Linked DNA regions of Homo sapiens. The protein of the gene in region 1 interacts with the protein of each later gene in a pairwise test. Each region holds a gene or a part of one and is shown in the gene's direction. Other genes may lie near its edges.

The links. The genes of interacting proteins can lie anywhere in the genome.
Region 2: the proteins of PSMB8 (region 1) and ATXN1 interact in binary tests that used the Homo sapiens proteins (3 or more experiments, as listed by UniProt).
Region 3: the proteins of PSMB8 (region 1) and TARDBP interact in binary tests that used the Homo sapiens proteins (3 or more experiments, as listed by UniProt).
Region 4: the proteins of PSMB8 (region 1) and UBAP2 interact in binary tests that used the Homo sapiens proteins (3 or more experiments, as listed by UniProt).

Annotation. Positions count from the first base shown.
Region 1 is NC_000006.12:32,839,394-32,845,430, reverse strand, and holds PSMB8 (proteasome subunit beta type-8 isoform E2 precursor), read left to right. Parts: upstream 1-1,383; 5' UTR 1,384-1,434; coding exon 1,435-1,581; intron 1,582-2,341; coding exon 2,342-2,489; intron 2,490-2,647; coding exon 2,648-2,759; intron 2,760-3,167; coding exon 3,168-3,297; intron 3,298-3,695; coding exon 3,696-3,900; intron 3,901-4,383; coding exon 4,384-4,472; 3' UTR 4,473-4,714; downstream 4,715-6,037. UniProt on the Homo sapiens protein: The proteasome is a multicatalytic proteinase complex which is characterized by its ability to cleave peptides with Arg, Phe, Tyr, Leu, and Glu adjacent to the leaving group at neutral or slightly basic pH.
Region 2 is NC_000006.12:16,754,961-16,758,460, reverse strand, and holds part of ATXN1 (ataxin-1), read left to right. Parts: intron 1-3,500. UniProt on the Homo sapiens protein: Chromatin-binding factor that repress Notch signaling in the absence of Notch intracellular domain by acting as a CBF1 corepressor. Binds to the HEY promoter and might assist, along with NCOR2, RBPJ-mediated repression. Binds RNA in vitro.
Region 3 is NC_000001.11:11,019,154-11,022,653, forward strand, and holds part of TARDBP (TAR DNA-binding protein 43), read left to right. Parts: intron 1-1,275; coding exon 1,276-1,446; intron 1,447-2,970; coding exon 2,971-3,500. UniProt on the Homo sapiens protein: RNA-binding protein that is involved in various steps of RNA biogenesis and processing.
Region 4 is NC_000009.12:33,930,388-33,933,887, reverse strand, and holds part of UBAP2 (ubiquitin-associated protein 2), read left to right. Parts: intron 1-259; coding exon 260-398; intron 399-1,259; coding exon 1,260-1,326; intron 1,327-3,500. UniProt on the Homo sapiens protein: Recruits the ubiquitination machinery to RNA polymerase II for polyubiquitination, removal and degradation, when the transcription-coupled nucleotide excision repair (TC-NER) machinery fails to resolve DNA damage. May promote the degradation of ANXA2.

The DNA of each region.
Region 1 (6,037 bases):
TAATGCAGACTTCCTGGAGTACAAACACAGGATTTGTAATTCCTTACTGTAACGGAGTTTAGAGCCAGGGCTGATGCTTTGGTGTGGCCAGCACTCTGAAACTGAGAAATGTTCAGAATGTACGGAAAGATGATCAGCTATTTTCAACATAACTGAAGGCATATGCTGGCCCATAAACACCCTGTAGGTTCTTGATATTTATAATAAAATTGGTGTTTTGTACTGTGGTTTCTTATGTTTCCGGCACACCAAACGGCCCACTGCCTTTTGCAGCGCACTTTTCAGCTGCGGATGTCTCCTCTTTTATCATCCTCAATGTTTTACCCCCTAACTGCATCACCTTTTCCCTTAAGCTTTTTAATTCCTATGAGGCCCCTTCCACTTCCCCTATCCCCTTAGGCCCACCCCCAAGAATGTGCAAGACCCCAGCCACAGGGCCCATCAGGGCACTAGCGGCCGCAGCTCAGAGCCGTGGCCTCTCCGAAGTGGCAGATGGGGCGGGCGCGGCCAGAGCAAGTGCCAGGCGGGAACAGAGGGACTGGGCGCGCCTCACAACTCACCACCTCGCCCGCTGGTCCTTCCTGGCTCGCCTGGCTCTGAAGCTGCACCTGGAGGGGAAACCTCAGAACAGTAGGCGGGATTGCCTAGTAAATATCTCCCATTCAGGGAGGCCCAGGTCGTGTGACGTCGACAGTTGCTGGGTAGATGAGGCCAACACAGGTTGCAAGAAGAGGCGGGGTTTAGAGGCGTGAAACTCCGCAGTGCTCAGCCAAGCAGGGAGCAACGCTAGGAAGGGCGGGCAGAAAGGGCACGCTCTTGTGGGTGACTACAGGTTAGGAGACCGTTGAACCTGGAGGGGCCCTAGGATGGACCCCGTGGAAAGATTCAGAGACTGCGCCCTCTCCCTGGCGCCGCCTTCCCCTACACGCGGCGGGTATATTCTGTTGCAGTTGGCCCAGGACCTGTTTCCAAGACTCTGCCCCCTCGCACTTCCGTCCCTCCTGGTTTTGTAAAGTGATGCTCATAGGAACCCCCACCCCGCGTGACACTACTCCCAGCTCCTGGCTGACTTCTAGTCTTCTGGTTGAAGCTGCGCCTTTAGATGACACGACCCTACCCACCCCTGTTTCCAGCGGATGCCCGGGCCTGGAGGTACCTCTTACTGTAACCCATCGCCAAGTGGGCTTTTGAAGGCGCCTGTTCCTTTCTCGCTTTCTTCGGAAGACCCTTGACCCATCATTCCCCCGACCCCCATAACGGGAGAGCAGAGAAGCCGGTCCCCAGTGTGATGGTCCTGGTCCAGGCACTAACTGTCCTTTTCTCGGAAAAGGCAGGGGGATGTGGAAAAGAGTCTTGTTCCCTCCCCTTCGATCTGTGGCTTTCGCTTTCACTTCCTCCTCCGAGAGCGGACAGATCTCTGGGTGCTGGGCGGTCATGGCGCTACTAGATGTATGCGGAGCCCCCCGAGGGCAGCGGCCGGAATCGGCTCTCCCGGTTGCGGGAAGCGGGCGTCGCTCGGACCCAGGACACTACAGTTTCTCTATGCGATCTCCAGAGCTCGCTTTACCCCGGGGAATGCAGGTCGGGGCAGTAGGGAAGCCCCTAGGGATGCAGGGAGGCGGGCGCTGAGGAGTGGAGGGTCGCCTGAGAGGAGGAGGCGAGAGCGGGAGCGCGGGGTACAGGGTCGGGGGTAGCCTTCAGTCCCGGAGAGCGCCAGACCCAAAGAAGAGGCCACATGGGGATGGGGCCTGAGAGGAGGAAGTGCAAGTTAGGACAAAGAGTTACAGGTGAGGTGGGGGCTCCCAAAGGAAGACAAGAGAACTTTCCTGCCCTTGTCCACACACAAATGGTGGAGCCTTTTTCATGGGGTTATCACATGATATAGGAGGTGTGTGGTGTCTTGGGAAACCTATGAAATTTGCCTGCTGGCCTCCTCTCAGCAACTCACTGTTGCGCGACTTAGAACAAGTCACTTAGTCTAGGTCCCAAGCCCCTCTTCTGTAAAGTGAGGATACTGTTACTAAACGTGTTTTGTGAGGGTTGAATGCTTTATGCATGGAAGAAACCCTTTAAGTCACTCTCAAAATTTTTTAGTAATGGTAACATGTGCTTGCTTTCATTTCTGTTGTGCTGGAAAATGGAAAAGGTTGATACTGGCATGCCTCTTCTTTTCCTTCTCCCAAGCCATTTCCTTCTAGAGATTGGTTATTAACTGTTTCATTTATTGATGGTTAGATCATTTCTGCATATCTCCTCACCCTCATACTCCCTAAAACCTTTTCCTGGAGCCTCTTACTACAGAATTTTTCATTGCCTTTCTCAACCTCTTTTCTCTTATCAGCCCACAGAATTCTTCCAGTCCCTGGGTGGGGACGGAGAAAGGAACGTTCAGATTGAGATGGCCCATGGCACCACCACGCTCGCCTTCAAGTTCCAGCATGGAGTGATTGCAGCAGTGGATTCTCGGGCCTCAGCTGGGTCCTACATTAGTGAGTGTATACGCTCCAGCAGGCAGAATCTGGGGAGCTGGGCTCTCCTTTCCACAGGAGGCCAACTCTGCAACAAAGTGGAAGTGGATATTGATTTAGGACACACTGGGGGATCTATGGGGTCATCCCTTCTCTCCCAAAGCTCCATCTTCTTCCAGGTGCCTTACGGGTGAACAAGGTGATTGAGATTAACCCTTACCTGCTTGGCACCATGTCTGGCTGTGCAGCAGACTGTCAGTACTGGGAGCGCCTGCTGGCCAAGGAATGCAGGTAAGCGAGGCCTCTCATCTTCCTTTCTTAGCCTAGTGGTTAATCCCTGGATCTCTCAGATCATTGCTCCTTACTCTTGTCCTATGTGGTCCATCTTAGTGCTAATAGTATATTTCACAAAACAGCTTTTTGGTGATAAGACCCTTCTCCCAAATCTCAGCCTGTGCTCCACTCATAAGCCAGATAGTACGTCAGGTATTTAGCACTGACACATCCACCCTGGCGGGACAGTATCATTTACTAGGCTGCCTTTGTATGTTTCAGATACTTTAAATTCCAAATCTTTCTCTGATCTTTAGATCCTACAAAATAATTCCTTTCCAATGCTTATCTCTTTAATCATTTCCTGCCCCATCAAGTTGGAAAGAGCTAACCTCTCTTTCCTCACTCCACCTTGTCCTCACCCAGGCTGTACTATCTGCGAAATGGAGAACGTATTTCAGTGTCGGCAGCCTCCAAGCTGCTGTCCAACATGATGTGCCAGTACCGGGGCATGGGCCTCTCTATGGGCAGTATGATCTGTGGCTGGGATAAGAAGGTGGGTGCTCTCCATTCTTCATGTTCCCCCACCATGTTCCCTATGGATGACAGATCTGTTTCCCATCATATACTCCTACTCCCTCCCTGACAAGATGCATGGCATATAGAGTGCTTGGTTATAGAACTGTTTCAGTATATCCATGGACTATTTATTGGCCCAGATATGAATCATTGCATGTGTTTTGTAAGCTTGTCCCTTTTGTTAAACAGTTGATTTCAAGTTTGTTTTTCCTTTTTCATTTCTAAAGTTCGATGACTTTACCAAAGTGGTTTCCTAATTCCAATGTTCTTGTGGTAATATTAATTCTTTTGTTCACTTTTTATGTCTCATATTTGAACCCCCATGTTACCAACATCTTCCTCTCCAATTTCAGCCTGAAATCTTTCATCTTATAGGGTCCTGGACTCTACTACGTGGATGAACATGGGACTCGGCTCTCAGGAAATATGTTCTCCACGGGTAGTGGGAACACTTATGCCTACGGGGTCATGGACAGTGGCTATCGGCCTAATCTTAGCCCTGAAGAGGCCTATGACCTTGGCCGCAGGGCTATTGCTTATGCCACTCACAGAGACAGCTATTCTGGAGGCGTTGTCAATAGTAAGAGACCAATGCTCCCACCACCATGCCTGGGAGGAGTCGGCGGGTGGTGGGGGGGGTGATTTAAGATTGAGAAACCAGCCTGGCCAACATGGCGAAACCCCGTCTCTACTAAAACTACAAAAATTAGCCGGACGTGGTGACGGGTGCCTGTAGTCCCAGCTACTTGGGAGGCTGAGGCAGGAGAATCACTTGAACCTGGGAGGTGGAGCTTGCAGTGAGCCAAGATGGCGCCACTGCATTCCAGTCTGGGCCACAGAGTGAGACTCCTTCTCAAAAGAAAAAAAAGAAAATGATTGAGAGACTCAAAGGAGGGAGAGTAGTAGGGAGGAAATTTTCAGAGTCAGAAGAAGGGCATTAAAGGCCCAGTCATATGGTTTTAAGCTTGCGCATGTGTCTTGTTGCTGCCTTCAACATAACATCAGTGACAGGAACTTGCTGAGGTGAAAGGTGACTCCATGTTCTTTTCTCATTTGTCCACAGTGTACCACATGAAGGAAGATGGTTGGGTGAAAGTAGAAAGTACAGATGTCAGTGACCTGCTGCACCAGTACCGGGAAGCCAATCAATAATGGTGGTGGTGGCAGCTGGGCAGGTCTCCTCTGGGAGGTCTTGGCCGACTCAGGGACCTAAGCCACGTTAAGTCCAAGGAGAAGAAGAGGCCTAGCCTGAGCCAAAGAGAGAGTACGGGCTCAGCAGCCAGAGGAGGCCGGTGAAGTGCATCTTCTGCGTGTTCTCTATTTGAACAAGCATTTCCCCCAGGGAAGTTTCTGGGTGCCCCACTAAGTAGAATAAAGAAAAACGGTTATAAATACCTCTGTCTTGTGGCTGAATGGGGTTGGGCCTGTGGTTGTTGGGTGGGGCAGAAAGTAAAGAGACGCTTTTTCTGGAGAAGGGGCTCAGACCCCTATCTAAGAAATGTGGCCTCACCACATAGTTCTTCCTGGGGTTTCCTTCCACACTCATCTCTCCAAGACCTCAGGAAGGCTGCTCATTGCTGTCCATGGACACTTGTTTGCAATTTCACATAGGTTAGGGTCCTTTCCATAGAGAGGCACCTGGGGACTCCTGTGTGTTCCATTGTTAATGGTTTGAGGAACAGGGAGTAGGGCACCTAGGATAACTGTTTTTGACTTTATAGAGTAGGATGAAAAAGCTTCCACTTCACTTTAATATGGTAATCATATAAACACCATACCATTTATCCCAAATAACACTTTGGAGATATTGGATATTGAATATAAAGACAGACATTAAGGGTCTAATTTCATGATGTGTCATGCTGAATTGCAAGATGGCAGGACTATAATTTTAGAGGAAGAAGAGATCAGGAGGACTCCCCTAAGTGAGGAGTGTGGGGAAAATGTAAAAGATCCAGGTTAGAAGAAAGAGACACACATCATGAGATTTTCGGAATCATGCTGGAACTATGGACCATGTCACTTTCCAGAAAATAAAGGAAACAAATGCTTGAAAGTAGGAGCATGAGCTTGAGCATGGAGCTTTTTTCATTAGAGAGAGATTCTTAAAATGCCAGAATGAATAGAGTTGTAAAACTTTAGCGAGCCCCTACTTAAAATCCCTCCTCCCCACCACCACTATTTTAAACTTTAAGTGACTCCTTGGTAGTCACACAGGTAACATTTCAAAATGGTGATCTGGAATCCAAGCGACCCTTCCTTTGGGGAATTTGTTTGTTTGTTTGTTTTTAGTTTGGGAGGTGGTTTCAATCTGAAGAGTCCTTTCTGGAATAAACGAATCTTTCTGTTGCATAGGAAGGCTCTGGGTCAGGAAGGATATTTAAAAACCTAATTACTGTTCTAAACAGTGTTAAAATAGAACAAGAACCAAAGCTCAGTACGGGGCATTTCCCTCATAGGCTGAAGGTGCGCCCAACATAATTTGGAGTACAGACTCAGAGGCACCTGAACACGCGCCAGCTCAAGGTGCTCCGGCTGAGAAGGACGGATGAAGATGAACGCTCAGGGCCTACTAAATTCAAAGTCTGTACGTGAAAATCCCCTTTGGCCTGGTGAGATTGGTTGGAACCTTCTATTTAGGAGAGCCCGGCTCGCTCGCCTAAAACTGGAGCTTGCATGGAAGAGGGCACTTTTTTTTTTTTTAGACGAAGTCTCAC
Region 2 (3,500 bases), about 16 Mb from region 1:
AGTATGTAAATGCATCTCCCCAGACAGTGAAAGGAGCCTGACAATCCTGCTGGTGTTTATTGTGAACAGATCAACAAGTATTTGGTACTTGTTAGAAACCTTTCAGAGCTCACTAAAGCAACATTTCTTTTGCAGTCTGGTGCCTTTGGCCTTGCAGTCAGTCACTTAACCCTTTCAAGTGTGAAGAGCGTTCATCATTTGGAACCTCCATTGCCCATAGCGATGGCTGGATTTCTAAAGGGTTTACTCAGGGGAATAACTTATTCGGAAAATATATTCCCATTGTCACATTTTAAAACTTGACAGCCATCATAACAAAAACTGGTACTGACAGTAGGCAGACATTCTGAATGTATTCATTCTTAATTTGGATCTATTGGCTGTGATTTGAATGATCTTTGGTAGTAAGTTAAAAGGATTTTTTTTTCCTTAGCTAAGCGAGAAACGATAGAGGCCTATAGCTAGAGGACTGATAGTGCATGGTGCTTTTGGACAATAAACATGTACTTTATTTTAGGATGTAATTTAGTGAGCAGTTAGAAAGCAGTATTCTAGTCTTTGCATTAGGGCACCACTGATAAAGCTGGCTAAGCAAAGAGAAATAATATTATGGCAAAAAGGAAAAAAGGAAAAGTTGCTTTAGTTGCTGAAGCTCTGTGCTGCTCAGGCAATCCAACTAAGTGGGGCAGGGGGCGGGCGGGGGGGAGTATTTTCATAACCCTGGTATTTGAAAGAAAAGATAATTGAGAATTATGTCTTGATTTAGTTGTGACTGCCAGTCAGTTTACAATTTTATGGCCAACAAAGCTAAACTGGTAAATTTTTTCCCCCAGGGCTAGGATTGAGAGAGCTACTCAACTCTATTCCCAGGGGGTTTATGAGTTTTTACCGTTTTGTGAGTTTATGTGGTTGGTAAATTCATTGTGGCCTGGTCAGATGAAGCACTGCTGTAGTTAAAATGAGCTATTATTTCTTCTAGCTACTCAACTTTTATAAGGTGGTAAATAGATGGGAAGCAAGGATGTCAATATTACACAATGCCTTGGAGGTCCTGGATTCTATTTTGCAACATATAGAAAAATGCTTTACTTGCAGTAAAATGTGAACATATATTTTTCAGTGCACAAATAAATTCATGTGAAAATAAGTATAAAAAAATGTACCTGGTGGGAACCGCCAAAGGCAATATTTTTCCTTGCGGATTTCGTTTTAAGAGGGTTTGGTAAACAGAAGTGACACTTTGTCAAAAATGTTACGACTAGACTTCAGGACTTCTGAATTGTCTTTTACACTTAGAGGAAGATTAAACAGAAACTCTTTAGCCACAAGATTACATGTCAAATGCCTGTAAGTTTCAACATACCTAAGTCAGTTGCCTAGGAGTCCTGGGAAAGGCCAGTGCTGAGATTATTGAAATATTAGTAAACATTACTATGACTCCTGTTTTTGTTGTCATTATGGAGTCCAAGGACGCACATTTCTTTGAATAATGTTGTGCCTTTATTGTTTTTCATTCTGAAATGTCAAGTGGATTTTACTTTTTTGCACATACCTTGAGTGACAGTTTCTGATGACTAACACTAACACTCATTTTGTTTCCTATTAAAAGTTAAGCAATAAACATATTTTACTAAAATTCTGAAACTCACGTAAGTAGGTAAATGTGGGAGTGAATGTTAATTCTTTAAACTGTAGTTATCTGAAAATAACACATAGATTAGGATCTGAACAGCTTAAATACTTGCATCGGTAAAGTGACAATAGTGAAGTAAGACAGGCTATTATTTTTAGGGGAGAGATAGATTATTTGACTTTCCTTGCTCTGTATTTTCAGAGTAATTCAATAGTTCGAATGATTAGTTTCTGTGAGAGATTTAGATCTGTGCAGCTTAATTGCTTCAAATAACAGATTTAGTTCTGGTCATACTTCCAAGGTTATCAGAAGCAGGCCCTCCTTATTTTGATAAAAGCATTGAAAGCAATACATTGTAGAAATGGTAATAGAAATAATAATTTCTGTTTTAGGACCTTACATATAGAACTTCCTTTTCTAAGATAAGAATTTTAAGTCATCAATTATGTTCACATTTTATTTTCATGTAATTTAGTTTAATAAAATAAATGTACTCATTCAAAATTTTTTTAAGAAGTGATATACAGTGTCAGTTTTACAGAATTTTTTAAATGTTGGCTGAAAGAACGGTAATTACATTGAGATTTTTAAAAATATATAAATGCTTAAAATTACAGAAGTAATAAAAAGAATGGTTTTAGACAAATCTTATGGAAAGTTTTTTATTTTATTCTTTTATAATTATATTTATGGATATTTGTCTTTATTAGTGTAGTAATATATTTTATAACGCTCATAATTTGAACTTTCAGGCTAATGTACTATAAATATTTGTATTACGCATTACTACCATCCCAAATGTACCAAAACACGTTTAGAGAGAACAATTATGGACAAAAAAGCAACAAGCATTATATTTTGTTTGACATATTTCATGTTAGCAGAAATGTTTCATTGATTTTTCTGTAACTTTTAATGCATCCCATTTGTGGAGTAATGAAAATGTAATGATAATTGCCACAATGTAAGCAAAAATTGTATCCTACCTGAAAATTACTTTCCAGAAAATTCATGGTAGTGTACTCAGAATTTGAGACTCAAGAGGGCAGAGGTTTCCCCGATTGTGATGTTTTGATTTGGGCTAAGAGGAACTCTTTTTTTTTTTTTTTACACTTAGGTGCCCTTTAACATGACAAGTTTTGAATGAGTTAGGTAGCAGAAGTTTTTCGTGACAGTTATTGTAGCTACTAACCTATAGCATCTATCCTTCTAACGTTCAAAGAAAATATATTTTTCTGTCACTGTGTATGGCAAACTTTATTTTCTTGTGCCCTTAATTTTGTTCCCCTTTCTCACATTATCTCCTGGTACTTACTGACCATTACCTCAGTTTTGTTTAGGCCGTCTTTCTTGTTAATCTTCCAATATTAATAGTATTGTATTATGTTGCTCTGCTGGGTTTTAAAAATATTGAGTATTCCATTTTTGGTGTATATTATTGTATAAAATGTCCTATAAATTATTTTCTGGTATATTATTTTGTAAGTTTTTGCAGTGAATACGTGCTGCCTTGCTTGTATTCTTGCCTTCTTCCCTCTGATGGAATACAAGTTATGTAAACTCTCTGTATTATCCTAACTAGTGCAGCAACACAAATACTTTTGAAATAAGAAAGCATACTCATGCAAGAGTAAAGTAATCTTCTATGGCATTTACATCATGTTTGACCCTCCTCTGCACTTCAGCAAACTAGGAGGAGGTTGTAACTTGGACTCTATAAAACCTTATCTGCCAGGTGATATGTAAACAGGATTGTGTGCACACACATTGTCATATAGGCAAACACTCTCCCAACTGGTGAGCTCATAAAAAGCACTGTCTGTAAATTTATGGTACCTGCACCTCATTTGAGAATCAAGTATTTTGA
Region 3 (3,500 bases), on another chromosome or scaffold:
CATAGTTATATGTTAAAACATAAAGAGAATCAGAATACATACATTAATTGTTATAAAGACCTAACTTTTTCCAAGCAAACAAATAACATTGGCTTATTTGGAACATCATCATCTTTGCCAAGAGATTGCTTATTTATTAATTTTCTCAAATCCAAACACAGTCATGTATCACATGGCAAAGTTGATCAGTCAGCAGCAGACCTCGTGTACAGCAGTGGTCCCATAGGATTATAACACTGTTTTTACTGTACCCTTTCTATGTTTAGATACACAAATACTTACCATCATGTTATAGTCGCCTACAGTGTTGAGTACAGTAACTTGAAAGTTTGTGGCCTGGGAGCAATAGGCTATACCATCTAGCCTAGATGTGGGGTAGGCTATGCTATCTGGGTTTATATGATGTTTGCACAACGACTTTTTTTTTTTGAGAGAGAGAGTCTCACTCTGTCATCCGGGCTGGAGTGCAGTGGTGCAATCTCAGCTCACTGCAAGCTCTGCCTCCCGGGTTCACGTCGTTCTCCTGCCTCAGCCTGCCGAGTAGCTGGGACTACAGGTGCCCACCAACACGCCTGGCTAATTTTTTGTATTTTTAGTAGAGATGGGGTTTCACCGTGTTAGCCAGGATGGTCTTGATCTCCTGACTTCATGATCCGCCCATCTCGGGCTCCCAAAGTGCTGGGATTACAGGTGTGAGCCACCGCACCTGGCCCTTTTTTTTTTTTTTTGAGATGGAGTTTCACTCTTATTGCTCAGGCTGGAGTGCAATGGTGCAATCTTGGCTCACTGCAACCTCCTCTTCCGGGTTCAAGTGATTCTCCTACCTCAGCCTCCCAAGATGCTGGGATTACAGGTGCCTGCCACCACACCCGGCTGATTTTTGTATTAGTAGAGGTGGGGTTTCACCATGTTGACCAGGCTGGTTTGAACTCCTGACCTCAAGTGATCCACCCGCCTCGGCCTCTCAAAGTGCTGGGATTACAGGTGTCAGCCACCACACCTGGCCACGATGATGAAATTGTGTAATGGCTCATGATGTATTTATATCCATCATTATGTGATGCATGACTGTGTACTTTTGTAACTTAAAACGTTACTCTTCACTGAAGCCTTACAAGAAAAAGAAATGCTGATGGAAAAAATTAAGGGTACGTCTACTTTTTAATGGTTCACTGCTATCCAAGGCGAATGATTTTGTTATATCCCTTACCTTAATGTTTTTTTCATTGTTCATAACATATTTCTGAGTTTTTTTCTTCCTTTTGATTTGATCAGCAAAGCCAAGATGAGCCTTTGAGAAGCAGAAAAGTGTTTGTGGGGCGCTGTACAGAGGACATGACTGAGGATGAGCTGCGGGAGTTCTTCTCTCAGTACGGGGATGTGATGGATGTCTTCATCCCCAAGCCATTCAGGGCCTTTGCCTTTGTTACATTTGCAGATGATCAGGTATTTTTCTCCTTAACGATATGTCCCGGCCGGGCGTGGTGGCTCATGCTTACAATCCCAGCACTTTGGAGGCCGAGGCGGGTGGATCACGAGGTCAGGAGATCAAGACCATCCTGGCCAACATGGTGAAACCCCGTCTCTATTAAAATACAAAAAAAAAAAAAAATAGCTCGGTGTGGTGGTGCACGCCTGTGGTCCCAGCTACTCTGGAGCCTGAGGCAGGGGAATCGCTTGAACCCAGGAGGCGGAGGTGGCAGTGAACTGAGATCACACCACTGCATTCCAGCCCAGTGACAGAGTGAGACTCTGTCTCAAAAAAAAAAATATGTCCCAGGTAATTAGGTAATTTCTCTTGAACATTGCCCATGCAGCTAATTGCTATTCTTAGCTAAGTTTTCTGACCTTGTAAGACGTAGGGTGTATGGGCCTAGATGTTTGTGATACCTGTATCTGATATCACAAATACAACATTTTAAGAAATCTAAAAGTAAATATGCCTTTAGATAATTTTCAGTATGTGGCATTTGGGAATGTTATATACTTTTTTTTTTTTTTTGAGACAGAGTTTTGCTCTTGTTGCCCGGGCTGGAGTGTGATGGCGCGATCTTGGCTCGCTGCATCCTCCACCTCATGGGTTCAAGCGATTGTCTTGGCTCAGCCTCCTGAGTAGCTGGGATTACAGGTGCCTGCCACCACGCCTGGCTGATTTTTTTGTGCTTTTAGTAGAGACAGGGTTTCACCATGTTGGCCAGGCTGGTCTCGAACTCCTGACCTCAGGTGATCTGCCCATCTCAGCCTCCCAAAGTGCTGGGATTACAGGCATGAGCCACCACGCCTGGCCAGTTTTTTGTATCTTTAGTAGATAACGGGGTTTCACTGTTTTGATCTGGCTGGTCTTGAACTCCTGACCTCAGGTGATCCACCCCCCTCAGCCTCCCAAAGTGCTGGGATTACAGGCGTGAGCCACTGCTCCTGCTCCCGGCCCATTTTTTAAATTATTATTTTGAGACAGGGTCTCACTCTGTTGCCCAGGCTGGTGGAACACAGTGGTGTAATCATAGCTCACTACACCCTAGAACTCCTGGGCTCAGCCTCCAGGGGGAGGATCCTCCAGCTTCAGCCTCCCAAGTAGCTAGGACAGATGCATGCCACTACGCCCAGCTAATGTGGCTTTTTTGTGGTTTTTTTTGATAGAGGTGGGGTCTCCCTGTGTTGTCTAGGCTGCCAGGCTAGTCTTGAACTATTGGCCTCACACAGTCCTCCCACCTTGGCCTCCCAAAGCGCTAGGATTACAGGCATGAGCCACCATGCCCAGCCTATGTCTTTTGAAAATCGACTGAAATATCACTGCTGCTGTTAATAAAACTAAAAGCTGTATTGGGGGTTTAAATGAAATGAGTGTTCATTGCTTATTTTTCCTCTGGCTTTAGATAAATTAATGCTTGTAATCTAAGTTTTGTTGCTACTTTAAATATATGAATCAGTGGTTTAATCTTCTTTGTTTACATCCCTTATTTCTTATAGATTGCGCAGTCTCTTTGTGGAGAGGACTTGATCATTAAAGGAATCAGCGTTCATATATCCAATGCCGAACCTAAGCACAATAGCAATAGACAGTTAGAAAGAAGTGGAAGATTTGGTGGTAATCCAGGTGGCTTTGGGAATCAGGGTGGATTTGGTAATAGCAGAGGGGGTGGAGCTGGTTTGGGAAACAATCAAGGTAGTAATATGGGTGGTGGGATGAACTTTGGTGCGTTCAGCATTAATCCAGCCATGATGGCTGCCGCCCAGGCAGCACTACAGAGCAGTTGGGGTATGATGGGCATGTTAGCCAGCCAGCAGAACCAGTCAGGCCCATCGGGTAATAACCAAAACCAAGGCAACATGCAGAGGGAGCCAAACCAGGCCTTCGGTTCTGGAAATAACTCTTATAGTGGCTCTAATTCTGGTGCAGCAATTGGTTGGGGATCAGCATCCAATGCAGGGTCGGGCAGTGGTTTTAATGGAGGCTTTGGCTCAAGCATGGATTCTAAGTCTTCTGGCTGGGGAATGTA
Region 4 (3,500 bases), on another chromosome or scaffold:
GGTTGGGTTATAAAGGTGTCATTTCCTATTCTTTGCTGCATCTTGAACAGCTGACCATGGTGTGGTGTCCTTTGATAGTGTTGTTTGACAGACAAAGGGCTATCTGGCGATATGCTTGGCATTTTCCTGGGGAATGTAACTTTATGGACGTCTCAACTGAGGCTGACATGTCACAAGATATTGAGCATATTTTCAGGCACTTAGGATTGGTTTTAGAAATAAACAGATCTGCTTCTTACAGCTACTTCATCTGTTCCAGCTCCAAAGACAACAGGCCCTCCCTCTGCCCTCCCGTCTGTGAGCTCCCTGCCCAGCACCACCTCCTGCACTGCACTTCTGCCGTCCACATCCCAGCACACTGGCGACCTGACTAGCAGCCCTCTCTCTCAGCTTAGCAGGTATGGGGAAGGTGTGGGCCCAAAGTGAGAAGTACCTTGGGGCAAGTCCTGGAGCTCCTGTAGAAGGTTGCTTTCATGAACAGAGCACACTTGTTGTCTCTGACGTGATGTCCTGGGCTTTTGCATTACGACTGTAGCTTAGGTTTTGGCCAGGTTGTTCCTTAAAACCACCAGATATGGAAACCTTGCCTGCTTGTACCGCCTCTGCTGGCACAGAGCACTGGGTCCCCTGGGAGTAGGGTGAGGCCAGCAGCTCCCTCCTACCTGTCTTCACCCTCCAGAGGGTGCCTGAGCCTAGCCTCTCTGGGCATCGCTGGGCCCATGTCACTGAGGTGGAATGAGAATGATGGATTTCTGAGCAGGTGTCTGACTTGAACTTTCCATGGCTGAAGAAACGATGTTATTAGAACAAGGTGTAGGAAAATGGGTGGCGTTGCTACCTGTGTCTTCTGAGGAGTGTTCTCCATCACTCTTTAGCTAGGAGCAAAAGTGGATTTGATGGGAATTGGCATGTGGAGTTGAGCATAGGAACTTTGATCCCTCGTTCACAGATTGAATGGGATTGTCAAGGATGACCGTGTTCTTAGTGCAACTCTGTCTTCACTTTTCGCATCTGAGGAGCAAATGGATGTCGTTGAGGGAAGCTGGCTCTGGAGTTTTCCAGACCTCATGGCGAGTCATTCCCGTCCACCAGGACCCCATCACTGGGCTCTGTGGGGATAAGGAATGAGGATGGGTCTGAAGCCGGTCCTGTGCTAGGGACTATGATAAGTTTGAATCTAGCTCACTGACCCACGTGCGTCTTGTTCATCTGGAGTCACTTGTTCAGGTGGACATACGGCGCTCTGTTTTGTCTTCTAGTTCGCTCTCCAGCCACCAGAGCAGCCTCTCTGCACATGCAGCCCTCTCCTCGAGCACGTCACACACAGTAAGTGTCTGCGCGGCTTCCTCTTCCTCCGCCATGCTTGGGGAGCCTGGAGCTTAGTCACATGCAGCTGGGGCTTCAGTCTGATTTTTAGTGTCTGATAATCTAGAGTTGCTTGGCTGAAATGTCTTGATGGCATGATCTGGTTCGAGCTTCTGATTTCCTGGGCACCATCTGGGGACATCTTGCTTTCTAAGTTTGTAGCGCCTGGGAAGAATCATTGCTCCAGACCTTATCTGTCATTGGCAGGAGTGTCAGGTGGTGACCTTGCTCCCAGGAATTTGCTGTTTGATCTTTCCTCGTGCCTTCTTTCCTGACTCAGACGCAGAGATTGCAAGAAGGTCAATGTTGGAGAAGGGAGTCTAGATGGTGGAGGGCAGGAGTGGAAGCAAACATGCACTGCCGAGAAGCCAGGCAGGAGGGCTGGAGTCGGCGCGCCAGCTTTAATTTTCCTCATATGCCAAAGAGTAGCCCTAGATTATGGTTATTGAGGTGTGGCTCAGTGGGTCGTGGAGCCGTGAGCATGGCTTTCAGTGGTAGGAGTCAGCCAGATTGTGGTGGGTTGCGGAGTGAATGGTAGTGAGATGGAGAGGAGGGAGGAGGATTGTAGAGGGCATGCAATGAAAACTTAAGAGAGGCTGGAGCCTCTATTGGGAGGATAGAAAGGTGCCTGGATTAACAAAAAGTGCATGCTCCTGGACAACAGGAGGTGTTGGGCGAGGTTGGAGTAGGCAGGTCCACAGGCTGGGAGGAAGGATTAGGGTGCAGACGAATGGAGGAGGCAGGAAACTGATGAACTTGGTGTCCTCTGAAGAAGACAGCAGCTCACCAGCAGAGTGAGGTGGTGGAAAAGGGACATCCTGTCCTTTCCTCTGGATCTGGCTAATGCTGTGGCTTTCATACTCTAGTGTTCCAAGTCAAACCTTACACAGAATCTTTTATCATAAAACACACAAACTGCCACTTTCAAAGGAGAGCATAGTGTGGACACCTCTGCCTGTCCCTCTGCCCCTGCCCTCTGTGGCTCATGGGAGTGGTGAGCTGACCTCAGCAGGAGTGCCGTGGAGCTGTCCTCTGTGTCCGTGCCACTGCTGCCTGGGAGCCCAGTGCTCCTGCACTCATGGGGAGCTGCACTCTCCATCTCCTCAAAAAAAAACCTCCAGACCATGTATTCCAGCCTGCCACAGCCAGAATCGTCTCATCCAGTGGGTCCCATACTTTGTCAGCATGACAGAACTGTGACATTGCTAATACAGTTGTCCCTCCATATATGCAGGGGATTCATTCCAGGACCACTGCATACACCAAAATCTGCACATTCTCAAGTCCCACAGTTGCCCCTGTGGAACCCACCTATAGGAAAAGTCAGCCTTCCAAATATGGGTGTTTTCAAATTATGTATGCGTGCATTGGGTTGAAAAAGAAATCTGCCTGTAAGTGGACCCATGCATTTCAAGCCTGTGTTGTTCAGGGGTCAACTGTTTGTTCATAATATTTCATCTGAAAAGTTATGGAAAGATAGACAATGAAAAGTTTTTCTGTCTCTCATCTACTTGGCTCTACCCTTACATTTTCTCCATCCTTTTAATAAATAAAAGTCAAAACACGCAGTGCATACATGTAGTCATTTCCCCATTATCATCCGCTTTTTTTTTTTTTTTTTTTTTTTGAGATGCAGTCTCACTCTGTCGCCTAGGCTGGAGTGCAATGGCGCAATCTCAGCTCACTGCAACCTCCACTTCCCGGGTTCAAGCGATCCTCCTGCCTCAGTCTCCTGAGTAGCTGGGGTTACAGGCGCATACCACCATGCCCGGATAATTTTTGTATTTTTAGTAGAGACGGGATTTCACTATGTTGGTCAGACTGGTCTCAAACTCCTGACCTCGTAATCCACCCGCCTCGGCCTCCCAAAGTGGTGGGATTACAGGCGTGAACCACCGCGCCCGGCCATCATCTGCCCTTTTTATTCTTTTTCTCTTGTTACATAAATGAGAGTATTTTATGTACAGTGTCCTTCAACTTTTTTTTCCCCACTTGTGTATCCCCACAAGTGTATCTTGATGTTTCCATGTTGAAACTTAAGGGTTTTTTGTTGTTGTTGTTGTTGTTTCCCCACAGTTCTGCTTTATGATGTTATTTAAGGTTATTTAAGCAGCCGTCCATTTAGGGTCGTTTTC